2 separate regions of the Homo sapiens genome follow, and region 2 is linked to region 1. The links come from fine-mapping of genetic effects on gene expression. Tissue or cell type: whole blood. Region 1 holds a variant in brackets; the other region holds the start of a gene. All regions are shown on one strand. Distances are between the middles of the regions.

What was found.
Region 2: it holds the start of LRRC8B, and the variant in region 1 is fine-mapped to the expression of LRRC8B in whole blood (TOPMed, PIP above 0.99). The same link has a PIP of 0.9 or more in blood mononuclear cells and monocytes.

What each region holds. Positions count from the first base shown.
Region 1 is chr1:89,553,976-89,559,357 of GRCh38, reverse strand. All of the region lies in intron 1 of LRRC8B (leucine rich repeat containing 8 VRAC subunit B), which reads right to left. Among named protein-coding and RNA genes, the nearest start is that of LRRC8B, 32 kb to the right of the region's middle. The variant C/T (reference allele first, on the strand shown) is at 2,118.
Region 2 is chr1:89,521,668-89,527,049 of GRCh38, reverse strand. It overlaps LRRC8B (leucine rich repeat containing 8 VRAC subunit B), which reads right to left and starts at 2,221. Exons shown (of 6, transcript NM_001369817.2): 1 at 2,028-2,221. RefSeq lists enhancers at 193-694, 695-1,196 and a silencer at 1,898-2,357.

The DNA.
Region 1 (5,382 bases):
TACTAATTTTAACTGAAGATAAAAAGGTATTAGGACCATGGAAGGTTCCTAATACTAGCTTATCCCTTAAGCATTGGGGTTCAGTCTTGGGCCTGTAGCTTCTCTACTCACACATATGCTATGCTCGGGTGACATCCTGAGCATTATGCTTAAGGTTTCATCCGCCACCTCTGTGTATATGGTGAGCCCAGCTCCCTAACCCCAAGCTGCAGAATCATCTCCCCAACATCTTCCTGGCTATATACCGAGATGTGTGGAAGCAACTCAAACAGCATGTCCCAAACTGCATCTACCGTTTCCTCCCACACCTAGATATCATACCTGTCCTTCCTTGATCCCCGAATCTCAGGTTGATAGCAACATCAAGGGCTAAGGCATTGACTGCTATGGTTTGGATGTTTGTGTCCTCTTCAGAATTCATGTTGAAGCTTAATCCTCAGTGCAACAATATTAAGAAATGGAGCATTTAGGAGGTGATTAGGCTATGAGGACTCTGCCCTCAATGATGGGATTTAGTGCCTTATAAAAGGGCTTGAAGGGGTAAGTTCTCTCCTTCCGTCCCTGTTGCTTTTCTACTCCTACACCATGTTCAACGTCCAGAAATCAAATCTGTAGTATCTTGATCTTGGACCTTCCAGTCTCCAGAGCTGTGAGGAATACATTTACGTTACTTATAAATTACCCAGTTTTAGGTGTTTTGTTACAGCAGCACAAACAGACTAAGGCAGGCACCTAACCCAGAAACTTTCTCTTCCTCTATTCCCTCAAATCCAATGGTCTCTTAAACTAGCCCCTTCTACAATCTTGCTACCACTGTCTTGGATGGGGCCCATGTCATCTTTGGGCTGGACGACTCTGAAATTGCCTCCTTTCTTGCCCTCCTTAGTCCCATTTCCATACTGCAGTCAGAGAGCTCTTTCTAAAACATGTCACCTCTTGACTTGTTGCTTTGTTATTATAAAGACAAAGTGATGTCTCAGGGAGGGTTGGGGAGGCTTGCCAATGGGAAGTGAGGGGAAAGAGTGGTGATCTCCAGCTTCTCTTGCTTTCTGTTTTATTGGCTCTTGCTGTTTCCTTCCCAGGAGTGCTAAGTTTGACCCCAAAATGCAGGGCAGACTGGATTATGAATTCTGTGATCACAGTGATCACTGATCACTTGACAACAGTGCAAACATGACAACAGGATGCTTCACCCTGTGACTCGCTGTGGGCACTCACTCAGCCTCACAGTTAGCTATGGCCACCTCTTGCTTTATCATGCTGCCTGTCTCATGGATTCCAATCAGTTTGGAACCCTGCTGTGATGGCAAGGGATTTTTTTTTAAGTCTCTGGCTTTATTTCTATCTATACTTCACTGGTGTCTATGCTTACAGATACTAGGCATTTTTACAGAAGTTTTCTTGACTTACTGGTCAGCAGCAGTCACTGCTGTGAGAGTCAACCCTGCACATGTTAGAGTAATTGCTCTACTTGCTGATCTGTTACTGTGTAAATGTTCTAGAGCTGTTTTAGGTAAGTATAAATTTCCTAATTTCAATGTTCCCCAAGCCGTAGCAGGGGAACACACAACATAAAAACACATAAATAAAAATTAGGAAAAACATATAAATAAAAATTAGGAAACTTTTATGTATCTGCTGCTGACTGAGTACAGTCTCATTTTGTTTCTCCGCTCCTCGCACTAGTGAGAGTGAGAAGCAGGGGCTGGTTTTCCATGGCAGCAGTGTGGAAAATGAACACTGGACTGAGTCCCAGGCCTGCCTCCACCATCATCTGCATGGGCTTAAATCACTCACTAAATACAGGCCTCCATCTCCTCAGCTTTAAAATACAGATAATCACACTGGCTCAAGAATTGATATTAGTGGTAAAATAAATATCATGGAAGCACTCTGAAATCATTGCAGTAGCAAACAGATGCAAAAGAGAACTCTTATAAAGAAACCTAATTCTTTTACTAGCAAAGTGATTTAAAAAGAGGATGCTTTTGGCCTTGGGATGGTATCTTTGAAAAAAACAACCCAGGAAGTGAGCTTTATTTATGCCACTGTGGTTCCAGGGAAACAAAATAGCAAGTGTTGCAAAGACATTGACATTTCATCATATTTGGGTCCTA[C/T]TGTGAAGTCAAAAAGAACGCTTCAAAAAAGGCATTGAGGCCCAGGGGTTCAGAAGAACTATGTGGCCCAAACATAGAATGTCACTCATTTGTTTCACTGTGACAAAACAACCATCTCAGTAGAAAATTCTTCTCCAAATCTGCCTTGCAATAATGGAATGATAATGGATCCCTTAATGTCTGTCAACTGGGGATTTGGAAAAAGACAAAAACAGAATGCGCACAATCTCTGGCTCACTGTGCCAATGGAGTGCACACGCCTAACTGCCCAACCCAGAGAAGGCTTTTTAAAAGATTCCAGTCAGCCAACACTGCTTATCTGTTCCAGCTCCTATTTTCCATGGAGGAAGGTGTGGGGAATGAAGCATTGGGCAAGAGCATTCAGAAAGAAACCAGTCTGTTTTGAAAGAGCAAGCTCTTATGTCACTTATGATTCAGGTAAAATGTCCATTTTTACCTTGGTGTTAAATTAATGCTTCATATTTGTAACTTGGTTAATGGCTGCTGGTAGTCAAAATCACTGGTTGCCATTTGCTCCTCAGCTGGAGAGGGAGAATGTCTGGTTTACATTTAGGGTAAATGCAGAGTGAGATGTCTTTTTTTCTGATATCACTCCCTGTAACACCAACTGGGTGTCCTAAAATTCAATCCTATTCTGACATTAACTACTCAGAGTTAGCATCAGACTCCACAGGTTTAAGGGCTCCATTCTACAAGACTGCCTCTGCTTCAAACTCAATCACAAGTCCCAGGAATCCAGGCTGCCTGTACTTCTGTTTGACTTGACTATAAATTTGGGGGTTCCCATAACGCTCTCTTCAAATTTGATAATTTACTAGAGTAACTCATAGAACTCAGGAAAACACTTTACTTACCTTTATTGATTTATTATAAAGGATACAACTCAGGAACAGCCAAATGGAAGAGATGTAAAAGGCAAGGTATTTGAGGGCAGTGGGAGGATGGAGCTTCTCTGCTCTTTCCAACCTCACCACCCTCCCAGCACTTCGATGTGTTCACCAACCTGGAAGCTACCTGAACTCCATTGTTTAGGGGTTTTTATGAAAATTTCATTATGTAGGCATCATTGATTAAATAACATTGGCCGTTAGTGACTGAAAATCTCCAGTCCCTCTCCCCTTTCCAGAAGTTGATGGTGGGCGTAAAAGTTCCAATGCTGGAATCACATGGTTAGATCCTCTGGTGACCAGGCCCCATCCTGAAGCTACCCAGGTGCCTACAGTGAGTTACCACATTAGAACAAACTTAGGTATGGTTAACAGGGGCTCGCTATGAATAACAAAGGACACTCTTATCAGGAATGGGGCTCTGTGATGTGACATGGGGGCAAAGGCCAAATATGACTTTATTACACACATAACATGATGCTGTATAAGAAAAGTCTCACAGGAGAGCGAATTCTTATTCCAACTGGCTGATGCAATTTCAAACAGTGCCAGATAGTTCACTTAAAAGGTCAAGCTTGCTTTCAAGGCCAAAACAAGGCAGTCGTTTAAGTCACTGATGCCCTGAGTCAATGACTAAGAAAGTTATTTCCTAAGGGACACCTCCTTGACATGATGACAGGTCACTTCACAACATGCTCCTGTAGTTCTCTATCCCTTCCATTCATAACATTTATCACAAACCTATAAGTAATTGTTTGATTAAAGGTTTATTTCTCTCTGAGGTCTGGTCTACATGTATCATGCTTATCAATGCACCCCAGGGCTTAGCTTGTAGAAGCTGCTACTAAATATTAATTGAACAGATACAAGAGTTTTAATTAGACCTCCTTGTTTGGAAGCAAAAACTGCAAAAATATCTTACAATCTTCATACCTTCTTACCTTCAATTTACATCCCAAATTCTACATGACATGAAAGGCTTCCTGAATCCTTTAGCAGAGACTAAAGACTCCATTTGAGCCCCATCAGCAGAGAAGACGAATTTAGCTCAGCCATAGCATTCAGAATAAGTTAGGGCAGCTCTGGGCACTCTGAAGTGATAGAGTAAGGTTCTTCTAAAATAACGCACAAATAACTAATATGAATCACATAGAATGCCTACATTCCAAAAAAGGTGACAGGTCATTTCTCCACATTAGGCTGGCTTCGGGCTTCATAACTCAGCAGGATTCTGCAGCTTCACTTGGTCTTAGCAAAGAGGAGAAACATGGGCCCTCTGGAAACAGAGTTTCAATGGTTTTCCAGGAGACAAAAGATATACTCCCCATCTGGAAGTTTGACACATGACTTCTAAATCAGGGTGGGGCTCTGTCATAGCTGAGTGACAAAATCAGCTGCACAACACACAGAGTCTCTAAGTTTCTCCTTTATACACAGCAGATGAATCTATGGTTATTTCTTAGCAACCAAATTTGAAGGGCAAAAAGACTGTGCCAAGAAAACTACAAGTGTAGTTTTTTTCCTGTCTTTTCTCTCTCATCCATGCACAAAAAATAATATTTACCTATTTATATTTGACAATACCATCTGTTTTTATTGTGTGGAGAGTCTTATCCATTTAAGGAAGGCAACAACTTTGTGACTCTCAGTTGAAGAAAGGTAGAAATGAAGAAGGCCTTATGTAACACCAACTTGTGTCACCAACAGCAAGTGGAAATATTACATCTTGCACATGCTCTGACACTAGGTGTACTCGACAATCATGATGAAGTTTCTGCTGGGTGCAAAGAACTGGCCCAGGTAATGAAGGCAATCGAAAGGTGTCACACTCAGACCTAAATCTCAAAAGGAGCTTATGCATTGGTGAAAGAAGGCATAAGTACAAGAAAGATCAAACAAATGAATTATACAGTTACATCTTAAAGTAATACATGCTAGAAGAACAATAGTCACTGTACAGGGTTTATGAGTTGGACCAAGAAAGATGCGTAAGATTTATATAGTTAGGGGGTGAAGGAATAAGGGGTAAAAGGGGTTGGTTAATAACAGGGCACATAATATTTTATGTGGAGGAATGGAACAACAAATAAAGAAGGCAAAAGAAAGCCAAGGTCAATTTAATGAATTAGTGAGCAGATGCATAGATGGAGTGGAATTTATGAGACAGAAATGATGGGGCTAAGAGTAGAAAGGTGATTAGGATCAAATGCTAATTAAGTCTCAAATTCCACACTAAAAAATTTTCAAGATTTAACTCAGGCCCAGAACATAACAGGCACCTGAGAAATTATTGCTTTAGGGGGTAAATATGTCACTTTTAGAATATTCAAATCTTTTTACAAGGAGAGAGGAATTTA
Region 2 (5,382 bases), 32 kb after region 1:
CTAAAAAACTTGGAAGGCTTAGTATCCTTTAAGTTTTATTAAGCCCCTTTTCATTTTACTTACTGTTGGTGTTTTCACTCTGAGGATTCTGAAAATTAAAATAGCAATGGGAAATGGTGATAGTGGTAGAGAAGAGGTTTAAAAAAGCAAATCTCAACTAGTCAAATGAAATCATTCAAAATGTGAAAAGATTCATAATAGGCTGAACATGTTGGAACACCTTACCAATTGAGGAAAAAGAGAACACATTTCAAAGAATGGTAAACTTAATTCCGACATGCAGATTTAAAAATGTTGTTGGGGATACTAAGTATAAGGAAAGTGCCATGACCCAAGGGTGCACTCAATGACAACATCACCCCCATTCAAGAGACCTCTTTTTAGCTTACAGAAATATCAGACATGTTAGGGCTTATATTCTAAAATTACACAGGCCCAATTACCTTGGGGGTTGGCTGTCACTTTATATTCTCTGAGTAGAGCTGCTGACAAGGAAAGCCAGGAGAAAAAGAAAGTCACCTCGGCACCCACAATTCAGAGAGCATTTGGGGTCACACCTGTAATCCCAGCACTTTGGGAGGCCGAGGTGGGTGGGTCACTTGAGGTCAGGAGTTTCAGACCAGCCTGGCCAACATGGTGAAACCCCGCCACCACTAAAAATATAAAAATTAGCTGGGCGTGGTGGCGGGCCCCTGTAGTCCCCGCTACTCGGGAGGCTGAGGCAGGAGAATCACTTGAACCCAGGAGGTGGAGGTTGCAGTGAGCCGAGATCGCACTACTGCACTCCAGCCTGGGCGACAGAGTGAGACTCCGTCTCAAAACAAAACAAAGAAACAAAACAAAGAGCATTTGGGGTTCTCAGGAGGTGTAGCCTGTACACATAGAGGGTACTGGAATTGTTTAAAAAATTACACTGCAGTTTGACTTCTTTTCCATCCTCACTCCTACACCTAGGTTTAGGGGACAGAACCATCTGATAAAGATAAATCTGTTTTAAGATTTCTGGGGTGTTCTGCAAAGACTACTATATCATTTGCAAATAGGTTGTCTTTTAATAAAAATCATGCTACGTAATGTCTTCTTAATATACGCTGAACAAATTGCCTGTTTTAATTTGGCTATATATCTACAATTTAAAATGTTCATACTGTTATCTTTTACCAGTGGAGTGTTTTTTTGTTTGTTTGTTTGAAGTCTTTAGGCGAAGTGAATTTATTCAAGGAAGTTCACATGTCGGTTTTGTTCTTTTAGAGGGGTGTCTTTTTGACCACAAAGAAAAAAAAAGTTTTCCACAAATGTCATCTAACTAAAGGCAATCTATGGACTTTAGGAAGTCAGTTGAGCACACAGATTAATGAGCCAATACTGAGCCTCCTCCCTTCTGACCTCTCAGCACCTGCTCAACTAAGCTCAGGGGAAACTCTTGAGTCTTCTTCTTAAATTGGTAACGCTTGCCCTTTCTTTCTCAAACAAATCAACGCCCAACACCACCACCAAATTATAGGCAACCAACGCGTATCCAACAGCATAAAATAGTTCCCAAGAGCATAAAATAGTTCCCAACAGCGCCAGCGCAGGGGGCAAAACAGAGCGACCAAATGGGGGCACCCTCAGGGGAGTTGCGCTCATCTGGAGCGAGACGCCAGCCTGGGAAAGCGGAACCCCTTTCCCGCCCCGCCCCGAGGACTCACGCTCAGGTGCAACGCCGAGACTCCCGGGGGAAAGAGAGGTGACCGTCTCGGCGCGACCGCCCACACCTCTTGCTCCAAATGACCCCAGCACACAGGAGAGGTCCTCTCAGCGTGGGACTCCGTCTCTCCCGAAGGCAGGGAGCACAACGAAGCGGCCACTCGTCTCTGCAGCCGCGCTACCGGCCCGCAGCCTGGCTCGCAGGTGAGGCGTGAACAGGTAACCGCACCTGTTCGGCCAGCCCCACCTGCTGCGTCCCCGTATCCGGTCCTCCTCCTCCACCACCTCGGTCGGCGCGGCTCGCCCTCCTGGAACCGGGGTGTCACGCTCCGACCTACCTGCGCGACTCCAGCCCCGGACGCCCGCGCTCCCCGCGGCGTGCTCCTGGGCCGCTCCGGGCGGGCAGGCTGCGGCCCCGCGCCCGCACTTTCCCGGCTGCCGGAGGCTGCGGGCTCAGCGGGAAGCCCCGGCGCTGTCCGGCTCGCCGCCTCCGACCGGCTCCATTGTGACGCGACGCGTTCCGCTGGCCAATGGGCGCTCGGCGGCGCGAACCGCTGACTAAGTTCGCGGGTGGAGGAGGAGGGGACGGGGCGGAGGCAGGGCGCGGAGGCGGCTACCACGGTGGTGGCGGTAGCAGTGGCGGAGGAGGAGGAGGAGGAGGAAGAGGAGGAAGAGGCTGCAGTCGCTTCGGTAGCTGCTCCTGCTGTGAATTTTTCAGCTGCCTGGGCCTGAGTGTTTGCCCAGCTCTGGGGCTGCGGGAGCCAGTGACTCACCTATCACTGCTGGAAACAAAGCGCAGCTGCCATCTCCCCGAGCGCGCCATGTGGCCATCGCTGCCCCCTCGCCCAGCCTGGGGTCCGCAGGAGGTAGCGCACAGCCATACGCCCCGCGGAGCAGCTGGAAAGAGCGGGGACTGCTTTCCAGAAGCGGGAGGGAAATGGGCTTCGGCGTGTCCCCCAGGCGCGCCACACCGGTGACTTCGGCACTACACCGCGTGTGTCGGGCCCCAGCCTTCTCACGTGTGCGTCCCTGAGTAACTTGGCATTTATATAACGCGTGTTGGGCCCTGAGGGAAAGGTCGGGTGCAGCACGCGGGAACCTCCTCTTCGAAAAGGAAGTCCCCTTACTTTTCTTTACCCTGCTTAGAAAGATTGCAGGGCCCAGCCTCTGTGAGGGAGGGTTTACAGTTGTACCAACTAAGCGGCTTAAGTTCGATTCTGGCCTTCCAATACCATTGGCTTCTCTCAAATGTCGTTATCCTCAGGATAGGGAGGGGACCACATGGCCGAGGGGCGGTCCCTATACTCATAACCTGCCTTTCACTGCGATTCAACTGCAGAGACACCTCAACTACTGCCCGCTTGCTTCTCTCCCAAGTGGCACTGCATTTGAAGGCCAACAATATTCCTTACGAAACAGAATTAATCCAAACCCACAAATTCTAGGGACATAAATATTTTTATCATCCTCATCCATTTCCCCACTCTCACCCTTACCCCAGTTTTAACTCAGTCTCTGCCCTGGCTATTATCTTGAGCACACTGATTCAATTAGGCAAGATTTATGTCTTTTAGTTGCTATGGTGGTCACATCTCCATTTAAAAAAAGAAAGAAAAAACAAGTTTGTACCGGCATCTCCCAAAGGAATAAAATGAAGACGAACAGACTCAGCATTTGGGGCATCTGAGCAGTTTGTGTAAATGGGAGTATAGCAAATGCCCTATCGAGTTAATATGAGACAAGAGTTGTGTCTCAGACTGTTCAGATGAGGACTACAATTTGAGTCACCCTGAAAGGGAAAAAGAAGGCTGTCTTTGTGTCACTGATCTGTTCTTTTCTTGTTCACTCAGTCCATTCTGGAACTGCAGATATCTTTTTTCTGAGTCTTGAAGGAAAAGCTGAAAGAACATTTCTTCACTTGGTCATTCGATAAATTTTTATTGAGTTTATATGTGTGAGACACTGGGTATGCACAGATCTACAAGTCTAATTTAAATTTAGGTTTGATCCTTACAGGAGTATCTGAAATTCTCTCAGGGACTTTCTGATTAATTATTTTTGGTAGAAGAAAATTCTAAAAGACTCTGTCACTACTTTCACAGCCAGATTTACCCAAGTCTAAAATAGTGATTAAAAATTCCATCATGGATTTTAAGCACCAAAAAAATGACAGGCAGGTCTCAATCGTTTTAGAGGTTTATTTTGCCAAGGTTAAGGACATTCCCCAGGAGAAAGCACAAATACAGGAACATCTGTGATCTGTGCCTTTTGCAAAGAGAGTTTTTGAGGACTTCAGTATTTAAAGGGGAAAGAGCCAGCAGGAGGGGAAGGAGAAAAGAAAGAAAAAAAAGGGAAATGGGAAGGTAGGCAATGAGGGAAGAAGTTACATTCTTGTGAGGCTTTGATTAGTGCCCAGTGAATTCACATTTTGCGTGTGAAGAGTGGGTAGAGGAATACTGATTATGTGTTCCTCTCATGCTCAGTAAATCTACATTTTACATAAGATAAATGTGAAAATAGGGGGAAAGTCAATTATGAATTTGTCTTGGGGTGGGCAGAGGGATGATTTCCAAGTCTTGTCCTTATACCATACATATGAAGATGAGCTGTTATTGTCAGAGTGAGATTCAACAGAACTGTGTTTTAGGGCTCATTTATAGGAGGGATATGCATTCTGAAAGATTTAGGGACCCACAAGGCATTTCACTGTAAGCAATTTGTGAGGGAGGCTATCTGGGGAGATATGTGGCCTTCTATTGTTGCAGCTACCTGGTAACAACAGAAGGCAGGTTTTTAAAATTTTTTTATTTTTTATTTTATTATACTTTAAGTTTTAGGGTACATGTGCACAACGTGCAGGTTAGTTATTTATGTATACATGTGCCATGTTGGTGTGCTGCACCCAGTAACTCGTCATTTAACATTAGATATATCTCCAAATGCTATCTCTTCCCCCTCCCCCCACCCCACAACAGGCCGTGGTGTGCGATGTTCCCTTTCCTGTGTCTGTGTGTTCTCATTGTTCAAGTCCCACCTATGAGTGAGAACATGCGGTGTTTGGTTTTTTGTCCTTGCTATAGTTTGCTGAGAGTGATGGTTTCCAGCTTCATCCATGTCCCTACAAAGGACATGAACTCATCCTTTTTATGGCTGCATAGTATTCCATCGTGTATATGTGCCACATTGTTGGACATTTGGGTTGGTTCCAAGTCTTTGCTATTGTGAATAGTGCTGCAATAAACATACGTGTGCATGTGTCTTTATAGCGGCATGATTTATAATCCTTTGGGTATATACCCAGTAATGGGATGGCTGGGTCAAATGGTATTTCTAGTTCTAGATCCCTGAGGAATCGCCACACTGACTTCCACAATGGTTGAACTAGTTTACAGTCCCACCAACAGTGTATAAGTGTTCCTGTTTCTCCACATCCTCTCCAGCACTTGTTGTTTCCTGACTTTTTAATGATCGCCATTCTAACTGGTGTGAGATGGTATCTCATTGTGGTTTTGATTTGCATTTCTCTCATGGCCAGTGATGATGAGCATTTTTTCATGTGTCTTTTGGCTGCATAAATGTCTTCTTTTGAGAAGTGTCTGTTCATGTCCTTTACCCACTTTTTGATGGGGTTGTTTGTTTTTTTCTTGTAAATTTGAGTTCATTGTAGATTCTGGATATTAGCCCTTTGTCAGA